Homo sapiens: one gene and its partners. The protein of the gene in region 1 interacts with the protein of each later gene in a biochemical or structural test. Each region holds a gene or a part of one and is shown in the gene's direction. Other genes may lie near its edges.

Region 1 (3,748 bases):
TAAATTTCTGAGGAGGAGGAGGAGGATAATGCGATGTAATTATTTCCATCTCTGTATCCAAAGGGGTCCTATGTGTTCACTGGATTTTCTTTTTTTTTTTTTCTTTTTTTTGAGGCGGAGTCTCGCTCTTGTTGCCCAGGCTGGAGTGCAATGGCATGATCTCGGCTCACTGCAACCTCCGCCTCCTGGGTCCAAGCGATTCTCCTGCCTCAGCTTCCCGAGTAGGTGGGACTACAGGCGTGCACCATGATTCCCAGCTAATTTTTTTTGTATTTTTAGTAGAGACAGGGTTTCACCATGTTGGCCAGGATGGTCTCGAGCTCTTGACCTCGGGATCCGCCTGCCTTGGCCTCCCAAAGTGCTGGGATTACAGATGTGAGCCACCGCACCCAGCCGATTTTCAATGGAATTAGACTAAAAGCTAGGAGTAATTGAAAGTATAGGAAGTTCTTCAGGAAATCTATATAGATGCAGATGCTTTGCAGAGTCCTTGGTTTTGAGTCACATTGTCCTTCAACCTGTTAACACGACCCTGGGGATTCTTTAGATTGCTCTGGAAGCAGCCAAAGCACTGGATGACAAGAACTGCTGGGAAAAGCTGGGAGAAGTGGCCCTGCTGCAGGGGAACCACCAGATTGTGGAAATGTGCTATCAGCGTACCAAAAACTTTGACAAACTTTCCTTCCTGTATCTTATCACTGGCAACTTAGAAAAACTTCGCAAGATGATGAAGATTGGTGAGGCCCTCAAACTAAGGATGGGAAGAGGGGTTCTTGGGGGAAGGAGGAAGGTGAATTAAGGAGAAAGAGAACTTAAGAGAAAAGACCTAACTTGGTGTCTCTTACTTGGTGCAGCTGAGATCAGAAAGGACATGAGTGGCCACTATCAGAATGCCCTATACCTGGGTGATGTGTCAGAGCGTGTGCGGATCCTGAAGAACTGTGGACAGAGTAAGTATCCGAGACTTGCCAGCTTTTTCAGGGTCTGAGGAAGTATTTTTCTGTTTTTGTTGAGTTAATCTGTGTATAGTGGTGAGGGATTTCTCTTTATTGTGCATTTTTTTAGGAGAGACAACATGCTCCTACTGTGCTTAGAAGATTTTCTTCAAAGCCAAAGGGAGGTGCAGCCAGAATATTCAGTCCAGCCAAACACCCTTAGGAGAATAGTTATTCATGGGGGAGATAGGAGGTTTTAAAAGGTCTTGAGTGGACGCCCTAGTAAATGCACTTGGTTGGATGCCATTAGAATTTTATTCTTTATTTTCAGTTTGGAGGTTTCACTCATTTATTCATGTATATAGTCAAGGGATATTTTTTGAGAACCCACTATATACCAAGCATTATATTAGCATTTAAGATACATTAGGAAACAAGCAAGGTGAAAGATGAGGTTTGGACCAAGGCGCTATTAGTGGAGGGGTGAGCAGTGGTCAGATTCAGGATATATTTTAAGGTAGAAACAACATGATTTATTGCGGTAACTAGATTTGAGATGTAACAGAGAGGAGTCAGGGATATCCAAGGTTCTCAGCACGGATGGATACGTCTCAAAGATAAGCAGCTATATTAGTTCTCTATTTCTGTGTAACAAATTATCCCCAAATTTAGTAGTTTAAAACCACAAACATTTATTATTTCACAATTTGTGGCATGGCTTAGCTAGGTGCCTCCGGCTTAGGATCTCTCATGAGGCTACAGTCAAAGTGTTGGCCAGAACTGCAGATATCTGAAGACTCACCGGGGAGAGAATCTACTTCTGCACTCACTCAATGGCCATTGGCAGCCCCCATGTCCTTGCTCCCTGTTGTCTAAGAAACATCACTTTCTTTTCGTGTTGACCTCTCCATAGGAGTTTGTAACGTGGTAGCTAGTTTCCCTTACAGCAAGTGAGCAAAAGAGGGCACCCCAAGATAGAAGCCACAATCTTTGTAACCAGATCTAGGAAGTAACATCCCATCACATCTGCCATGTTCCATCCATTAGAAGCTATTTAATAAATCCAGCCCACACTTAAGAGGTGGGTATTTTGCAACAACTTGAATACCAGGAGTCAGGGATTACTGGGGGGCCATTTCAGAGGTTGCTTACCACAGCAGCATGCATTTGGAAATGTACCTATACCACAAAGTCTGTTTTCTCTACAGAGTCCCTGGCCTATCTCACAGCTGCTACCCATGGCTTAGATGAAGAAGCTGAGAGCCTAAAGGAGACATTTGACCCAGAGAAGGAGACAGTGAGTCTTTATTTACATAATTGTCTCTTATTACAGGATTAACTCTAGGATCTTAGAACAATTTAAAATTATGAATGTCACTCTCCCACCTGGTTACCAGGAGAGGCAGAGAAACAAATGAGATCAAAGGAGGCTCCATAACTTTCCTTACGTGACTTCCAAGTGCTATTTGTTTTTAGCCTCTTTTCTTCTACTATTCAGATCCCAGACATTGACCCTAATGCCAAGCTGCTCCAGCCACCTGCACCTATCATGCCATTGGATACCAATTGGCCTTTATTGACTGTATCCAAAGGATTTTTTGAAGGCACCATTGCCAGCAAAGGTAAGTACCTATTTCTCCCATAGCACTTTTGTTGTTTGTTTTGTGAAGAACTGTCCTAGAGAATACCATTAGCATTTAGTTTAACTTGTCCTTTTTTTCTGCATGGAGCCTAATGGAATATTGAAATGCCAGTCATTTATGGTGCAGTCTTAAAAACTTAAGATAGCATTTTCAGGTCATTAAAGAAAATTTGGAAAATAGGGAGAAAAAAAGGGATCCCTCTACTACCATCAATAACTTCGGTTAATATTTTGGTGTATTTTCTTAGGTTTTACTATATATGTAGTCATGTTCTTTGTTCAGTATTTTATCATTCATGACATACAATCTTAAAGGTACTAATTCAACTACCTGTAATTCCGGTATGTGGGTATAGGCAGATGTGTGCTATCACCCTCCACCACTTCCACCCTTAACCTCCTCCTGTTTTCTGGGTCTCCTAGTTCATTTCCCGTGAGTAAGAGCCTAAACAGACTCTTGAGCATTTTGTGCCAAACCCCACTCTTTTCTCCACCTCCTCTATCTACCCTATGCCTGATGCCCTGTACACATTGTAGTGGTGGTAGCTTAGCAAAGCGCTCAGGAAGAAATTCAAGAGTTGGTAGCCAAAGGCTGGTAAGTACAAATTATTTAAGAGCCAGTTTTTGGTAGCAGGAAGGCCAGTTCCTTCCATCTGTCTTCTATTCCCTCCCTCTGTGAAAGCTACTGCAAGTTAGCATAACATATATACCACAAAAATAAATAATACACAAAAATAAATAGTAAGTAGGCAGAAGCTTGGCACCTGTTTTTGAAAGGATTTAACCTGCCTACAGAAAAGGCCGTATCTCAGACTTGCTGGACTATAACCAGTTCCGTTCTGTTCCTTCCCTCTGTAGGGAAGGGAGGAGCACTGGCTGCTGACATTGACATTGACACTGTTGGTACAGAGGGCTGGGGAGAGGATGCAGAGCTGCAGTTGGATGAAGGTAAAAGTGCTGTTTTAAGACTGTTCTGGGGTGATGGACACCTTGGATTGGGACTGGGTTGTGGGTAGCTCTGCAGACTTCCAGGCCATGAAACGAACTAGGATTGATTTTACTTCCTTTGGCTAAGATTATGCCACTGCCCAAATCTGTTTTGAGCTTGAATTTTCCTTACAGATGGGTTTGTGGAGGCTACAGAAGGTTTGGGGGATGATGCTCTTGGCAA
Region 2 (3,748 bases), on another chromosome or scaffold:
TATTAGTCTCAATTTACATAAGATCACACTGCTGGCACTAAACTCCAGTTCCAGACTCTTTTTTCCACTATTGAATGCCACAGAAACATAAAAAAAAAAAAAATGGAAGGATCTTTAGAAACCATGTAGCTGGATTTTTTTTAAGATGATGAAAACTGAGGCCCATGAAGAGAGTCACATTAGCTCAAGGCTCCTACTAAAGCCAAATAATTTCGTGCAAAATCATCTCCCTCTGATTATCATTATCTACACACACAAATACATAATTTTTCTTTTTGCCTTTCTGAAAATCTGGAGGTCTGAAAAGACTTTAAGATTTCTCTCAAGTTAAAAATACACGTTTGTACGTGTAACCAGAGGGCAAGTTTTCTATGGTCCACATGTTTTCTTAAAAAAAAAAAAAAAAAGGAAATACAGGAGATGTGCAGTGCGTGTGACAGGCAAATGTTCTCGAACTTTATTGTGTAGTGTAACCCCTATGGCACAGGCCCTTAGAATTCAGCCACATTAATGAAGAGATATTTTTATGTAGTAGAAAGAGCACAAACTTTGAGGTGTTTTGTTTTGAGACAGAGTCTTGCTCTGTTGCCCAGGCTGGAGTGCAGTGGCGCGATCTCAGCTCACTGCAACCTCCACCTCCTGGGTTCTAAGCGATTCTCCTGTCAGCCTCTGGAACAGCTTGGATTACAGGCGCCCGCCACCACGCCAGGCTAATTTTGTATTTTTAATAGAGACGGGGTTTCACCATGTTGGCCAGGCTGGTCTCGAACTCCTGACCTCAGGTGATCCACCCGTTTCGGCCTCCCAAAGTGCTGGGATTACAGGCGTGAGCCACCGCGCCCGGCCCAACTTTGAGGTTTTATCTGCCACTTACTATGCAGTCTTGGCTAGAACACTTAACTTCTTTGAGCCCGAGTTTCCTCATCATTAAATGGAGATAATTCAGGTTTGATGTGAAGATTTGAGAAGAAGGTATGTCTGACACACTGCCGAAGATCGATAAATATTTGTTGAATGAATAACACAGCCAGCCGAAGCTCAACAAAAGACACATACACAAACACACCCACACGGTTGGGTAGTTGCCGTCTCCCGGGGAGCTCCAGAAGTGTAAGCTCTCAGCCCTCCCTCTGACTTCAGAAGCCTGAAGCTACTAAGCCCGCAGCCCGGTGCGTCTCTTCGCAGCCTTAATCAGTGCCCGGGCAAAGGCCTGCAGAGAATTCTCTGGGCCTCGCACCAGGCCCCAAGAACACACTGGAGACTCGTTTCGCCTTCTCCCTCGCCGTTTCCCCCCTCCAGGGCCAGAGTCCGAGGAAGCCCGATAGCGGTTCTCGGCCTCCGAAACACAACTACAACACTGGGGAGCTTGCCCTGCAGTTAGCGTCCAGCGGGGATTAGGCACTTCGTTTTCCTCATCGTTTCAATCTCTATCTTCTGGTCGGGGTCCAAGCTCAGCGGCACCACGTCACGGCCCTTAGTGGTCTAGGCCACACCCCTCCTTCCCGACAGCCTCAAGTCCACTACCAGCGGTCTGGAAGGCCACGTTGCCTAGGAAACTGGGGCGGGGCTTGGGAAACGACGGCCCTGCGCGCAGTTTGCGCAGGCGCTCCGGCCCTGGCCTCTGACTATCGCGAGAATCGGCTCCCGGAAGTTCCACGTCAGTCAGTCTGACGGTCAGTGGATCGGTGGGTTTATCTCAAGGCCTGAGTAGCCGGTAACAAACGAGGGTTCCCGGGATTGGACCGACGCAGCCATGGTAGGTCCAGATCCCGTAGAAGGGAGCGGGGTCCCATAGGTTACGGCCGATTCCTGGAGCTTCTGGACTGAGGGCCGCGGTAAGCAGTGGTCTGGGCTCCCGCTGCGGCCGCCGCCTCAGGCCTTGCGGGGTCTTGGTCGTTTGATTCCAGGAAGGGAGAAGGCGGTGGGGCCTAGGGGACCGGGGTGATTTGGGGAGGCAAAGCCTGCTAGTGAGGGGTTTTGTCTCCCCTGGCGCTTGTGGCGCTTGCCAGAGCTCCTGCAGTCTGCAGCGGGATCGGTGGTGTAGGGAAACACAGAAGCCGAATGTGTTGAACTCCGTAGGAGGCTTTGGTAAAACTAAAGTTTGCCTTTAAAACGGTGGTAGTTAATCTACACTCCTGTTGGGCTTATTCTGGGGATAGTGTGTGCTGGCTACAAACTATAAACAAGCAAAGAAGCCAAAAACAAATGTATATGGAGTCAAAAATGGAATTTCAAATGCTTTGATATCTCAGCTGTTAGGTTTCTAAGGGGAGAAGAAGGGTTGGGAGGAAGGGGGTGCTGTTTATAACACTGGCTGGTGTGCTTTTATGCATTTGCAAATCCAGTGGCTGGTAAGAATAGTAATTGTTAGAGCACTTTGTTATTATCACCGTAACCCTAAAAAACGCCCTAGACTAGTTTGCACAAGAGTGTTATAATAATAAGGAAAGAAAACGATAGTATAAGAATATCTTCCGTCTCTATTGAAAATGCAAAAAAAAAAAAAAGAAATTAGCCGGGCGTGGTGGCGGGCCCCTGTAGTCCCAGCTACTCAGGAGGCTGAGGCAGGAGAATCGCTTGAACCCGGGAGGCAGAGGCTGCAGTGAGCCGAGGTCGCACCACTGCACTCCAGCCTGGGACAGAGCAAGACTCCGTCTCAAAAAAAAAAAAAAAAAAACTTGTTATGAAGCACAGAATCAAACATTTTGGAGCTTGAAGACGCTAGGGATTAAGTCCCTCATCTTAAGTTAAAAAATTTTTTTAAATTATGTTTCTACAAGGTTAATTGTGGCAAAGTTGGAACTAGGAAAAAGTTAGGAATACTCCCAGGGAAAATGCACAGAGAAACAAACATTTTTGCATAAAATTCAGTGCATTCATTCACAGACACCCCCCCCCACAATCCATGGACCTTCTTTTTTTTTTTAATTTGTTTTATAAAAAATATGGAACGCTTCACGGATTTGCGTGTCATACTTGCGCAGGGGCCACGCTAATCTCCTCTCTATGTGCTGCCGAAGCTAGCACTATCCGTGGACTTTCTTGGGCACCCAGGTTACAGTCCCTGAACAAGACCTCAAGCCTCTTAATTAGAGCACTTCGTATTACTAACTACCTGATGTAGTTTGGGTCTGCTGTGGTTGCAGTAATGGACGTTTTTGGAAAAGGCTCTTGGATCTGCCTAATTTCATTTTCTTTTGCCGTCTTTACATTTACCAGTGTATTTCTATAATGAAATATTGCCTTCATTCTTTATATATTTTAAATCCTTTGTGGAAAATACAAAACGTGAATTCATTCATTTGTACATTTACCATAGAATATTTAGTGTCTGCCATGCACTTTGCTAAACATGGCTGCCTAATTCTCACAGCAGCTGGGAGATAGAGTTATATGTTTGTGAAGTGGTTACTGTAGGTCAGGCACTGCTCTAACTGGCTAACTCTGAATTTAATTCTTACAGCACTAAGAGGTAGATAATAATAATATTCCTGTTTTACATAAGTCAAACTTGAAAGAGGTTAAGTAAATTTGCCCACTATTGCACATCTGAAATGAGTGGTGGAACTGAAATTTAAATCCATCATGGCTTTCTAGTCTTGTGTTATGGTATCTGTTCTTAAACCCCCATACTCAAATATATAAGGTGATCTGGAGATAAAGACATGTATAAGCAATGACCCTGGCTTTAAGGAGGATCTACTCTAGAAAGCAAGAAAAGATGTGTACACAAGTGTACCATGAACAG
Region 3 (3,522 bases), on another chromosome or scaffold:
CAAACTCCTGACCTCAGGTGATCCACCCGCCTCAGCCTCCCAAAGTGCTGGGATTATAGGCGTGAGCCACCACGCCTGGCCATCTGCAGTCTTTATGAAGAGTTTATGTTATGTTAAATTAAAAATATATATATATTTTGTAAAGACGGGGTTGTTCTTGCTGTGTTGCCCAGGTTGGTCTCGAACTCCTGGCCTCAAGTGATCGTCCCACCTCAGCCTCCCAAAGCATTAGGATTATAGGTGTGAGCCACCATGCTTGGTGGATTTTTTTTTTTTTTTTTTTTGAGATGGAGTCTTGCTCTGTCGCCCAGGCTGGAGTGCAGTGGTGTGATCTCGGCTCACTGCAAGCTCTGCCTCCTGGGTTCATGCCATTCTCCTGCCTCAGCCTCCCGAGTAGCTGGGACTACAGGCGCCCACCACCATGCCCAGCTAATTTTTTGTATTTTTAGTAGAGATGGGGTTTTGCTGTGTTAGCCAGGATGGTCTCAATCTCCTGACCTCATGATGCTGCCCACCTTGGACTCCCAAAGTACTGGATTACAGGCGTGAGCCACTGTGCCCAGCCTGGATTATTATTTTTATAATCAGAAAGGACATCAAAGCTTTTTCCATTTTGGAGAAACGAATTTTGGGGGGTTTTTTGTTTGTTTTTTGAAACGGTATGCCACCATGCGTGGCTAATTTTTGTATTTTTTGTTAGAAATGGGGTCTCACTGTGTTGTCCAGGTTAGTCTTGAACTCCTGGGCTCAAACAATTCTCACCCTCCTTGGCCTTCTAAAGTGCTGGGATGATAGACATGCGCCAGTGCGCCCAGCTGAGAAACAGTTTTAATCTAGTGACAAACACTGGTGAAGCCCTCCTCCCTGTCTGACTTTCCAGGGGCTGAGTTATCATCAGAAAGTTGTTTGCAGAGCGGGGCTGGCCAAGGGGTATCAGGCTGGCCCCATCACAGGCCGGGTACTGCTCCTCCTGAGCAGGGTCCATCTTTAGCTCTGAGCAGTCAGGGCTAGTCAGGAACTCCCAGCCTGATGTGCAATCTCAGACAGGCTGTGTGTCCCTCGCTGCCCCAGGGGCAAGACTGGCGCCCTCCTCCACCACCCTGCCCCTCCCTGCCACCTGAGAACACTTGGATGCATGTTGTGTTCATGGCCGCATCCTCTGGGGGCTTTTGTTACACCTCTCAGGTGACACGTTCCGTGACTCACCAGTTAGATGACTCCCTTCTGTCCTTGTCTCTTGAAACACCACCTGGGGCTGGCTGGCCGTGCCCCTTGGCCCTGGTGGCCTCCCCGTGGCTGTGGTCACCCTGCATTCTTGCTGGGTTTTGGGAGGCACTCAGGTCCCCCCACTTCCCTTTGGAGCCACCTCATGGCTGCTCCTGTGAGCGCAAGCTGGTGTCCCCCTTCATGGTGGAGACTGAGGCTCAGAAAAGTCCGGTCTGCAAAAAGGTGCCCTGCCATGGGCCGCCGTGGGCAGGTCGGGCTCTGGGCGCATCCTCGTTGGTGTGTCTGTGCTCCAAGCAGACACCAGGGCTCTGGCTGGGTCTCCTGGCCTAGATGTTTCCTAGGGTCCTGTGTGCTGGGAGCCTAGAGTGAGTGAGTCAGGCAAGGTCCCCTGCCGAGGTCTCCTTCAAGGCTCCTTGGGAGCTGGTGCAGGGGTGGCAGGTCTGCCCATGGCCTCGGGGTTCGTTGTACAGCAGGAGTTGAGGCCATCTGGGTCTGGGCCCCATGGCTTTGAGATGTGTGGGACAAATACAACCTTCCCAAGTCTCTGTAAACAAGGGGTCGTACCCCAGGCTGGACTACAGATGGGGAAACTGAGGCTCAGCGAGGCGGCTGGCCCCTTGGCACCGTATCATCTGAGATCTCCACCTTGCAGAGCGGTGGGCGGTGTCAGTCCCACCCCACCTCTGAGGAGGTGACCTTGTGTGGTGCTGCCTGAGGTGGGGGTGACGGGCAGGCATGGGGGCTGGAGTGGCTGACCCTGCCTCCCCGTGTCTGCCTGTGTCTCCAGGATAGTGGCTACCCAGAGACGCTGGTCAACCTCATCGTCCTGTCCCAGCACCTGGGCAAGCCCCCTGAGGTAAGCGGCCCCCAGGGCTCCAGGCCAACCCTAATGTCCAGACCCTGGGACCCCAGCCTGGGGTCCAGGCCCTAATCCCTAGGCCCCTGGGAAAACTCTGTATACAGTATGCCTACCGCAGCCCACCTCCCTCACAAACCCTGTGCCCCCCAACCCATCCTCACCTGGGGCCCTGCCCGACCTGCTCCCCTGAACACCACAATACATCCCCCACCATGTACGGAGGCCAGCTCCATGCCAGCGCCTCTCCAGGGGGCAGGCCCATCCCTCCACCCCCACCCTGAAGGTTCTCCGAGATCAGCCCAGTCCCAAGGCAGGGTGAGGAGCCCCCTGGGGTACTGTGGCTCTCACCCCAATCCACCCCTGTCCAGCAGGTCAGAGCCACCGTGGGGTCCCCGTGTTCGGCTCACCTGCCTCCCTGCCTCCCCTGCAGGTGACAAACCGATACCTGTCCCAGCTGAAGGATGCCCACAGGTCCCATCCCTTCATCAAGGAGTACCAGGCCAAGGTGAGTGGTGGGGATGGCCTGTCCCCGAGAACCAGGCCAGGGGGCGCCTGGAGCTCAGCCTGGGCTCACATGCGCCCTCTCTCTCTCCCTCCACCTGTCTCCCCACACCCTGCCCCCACCCTGTGTTGCCATGTGTCTTGCTAAAGGAGAACGACTTTGACAGGCTGGTGCTACAGTACGCTCCCAGCGCCTGAGGCTGGCCCAGAGCTGTCAGGACCATGAAGCCAGGACAGAGGCCAGGAGCCAGCCCTGCAGCCCTCCCCACCCGGCATCCACCTGCATCCCCTCTGGGGGCAGGAGCCCACCCCCAGCACCCCCATCTGTTAATAAATATCTCAACTCCAGGGTGTTCCACCTGATGATGTGCTCTGGTCACTTTGCTGGGGGCGTGTGGGAGCTGACGCTCAGGGAGAGTCCTGGGGCACTGGCATCCAGGGCTGTTCCTGGAGACCAGGGTCTGTGACGAGCAGCAGGTGTGCAGACCCCCACCCCGCCCCTCACACAGCCACAACCTGCTCCTGCAGGCCAGAGGCAGCACAGCCCTGTCCCCATGCTTCACCCTGGCCCCTAGAGGCCACTGAGCAGCCCTGGTTGGCATCGGGGGAAACTGAGGCACAGAGAAGTCATGCCGCTATCATGAGGGGCACCAAGATTCAAAATGAGAACCCCTAGTGGCCTGGAGGAAGTGGGGGCCAGGGCAGGAAAAACTCAGGCCTCAGCTCAGCAAAGCCGGAGGGGCCCTGCAGGGTCAGCGTTAACCCCAGGTGCTGCTCCTGCCGCCCCGCAAACCCTCCTCCAAGGCAGAGTCCTGCTGTGGCAGGGTCCTGGGGCCAAGCACCCAGCCGCGATGAGAGGCGGCCGCACCATTTAGGGAGGGAGGTGGGTGGGTGGCAGCAGGGCTGGCCGGAGCCTCCCAGATGTCACCATTGAG

Evidence for each region.
Region 2: the proteins of COPA (region 1) and COPB2 form a complex in vitro, tested with the Homo sapiens proteins (one study listed by BioGRID).
Region 3: the proteins of COPA (region 1) and COPE form a complex in vitro, tested with the Homo sapiens proteins (3 studies listed by BioGRID, with this or other methods).

Annotation. Positions count from the first base shown.
Region 1 is NC_000001.11:160,294,545-160,298,292, reverse strand, and holds part of COPA (coatomer subunit alpha), read left to right. Parts: intron 1-547; coding exon 548-737; intron 738-854; coding exon 855-950; intron 951-2,143; coding exon 2,144-2,232; intron 2,233-2,433; coding exon 2,434-2,557; intron 2,558-3,435; coding exon 3,436-3,525; intron 3,526-3,699; coding exon 3,700-3,748. UniProt on the Homo sapiens protein: The coatomer is a cytosolic protein complex that binds to dilysine motifs and reversibly associates with Golgi non-clathrin-coated vesicles, which further mediate biosynthetic protein transport from the ER, via the Golgi up to the trans Golgi network.
Region 2 is NC_000003.12:139,387,556-139,391,303, reverse strand, and holds the start of COPB2 (coatomer subunit beta'), read left to right. Parts: upstream 1-1,656; 5' UTR 1,657-1,753; coding exon 1,754-1,756; exon of another isoform or gene 1,757-1,835; intron 1,836-2,939; exon of another isoform or gene 2,940-3,025; intron 3,026-3,748. UniProt on the Homo sapiens protein: The coatomer is a cytosolic protein complex that binds to dilysine motifs and reversibly associates with Golgi non-clathrin-coated vesicles, which further mediate biosynthetic protein transport from the ER, via the Golgi up to the trans Golgi network.
Region 3 is NC_000019.10:18,898,942-18,902,463, reverse strand, and holds the end of COPE (coatomer subunit epsilon), read left to right. Parts: intron 1-2,014; coding exon 2,015-2,083; intron 2,084-2,516; coding exon 2,517-2,591; intron 2,592-2,737; coding exon 2,738-2,785; 3' UTR 2,786-2,950; downstream 2,951-3,522. UniProt on the Homo sapiens protein: The coatomer is a cytosolic protein complex that binds to dilysine motifs and reversibly associates with Golgi non-clathrin-coated vesicles, which further mediate biosynthetic protein transport from the ER, via the Golgi up to the trans Golgi network.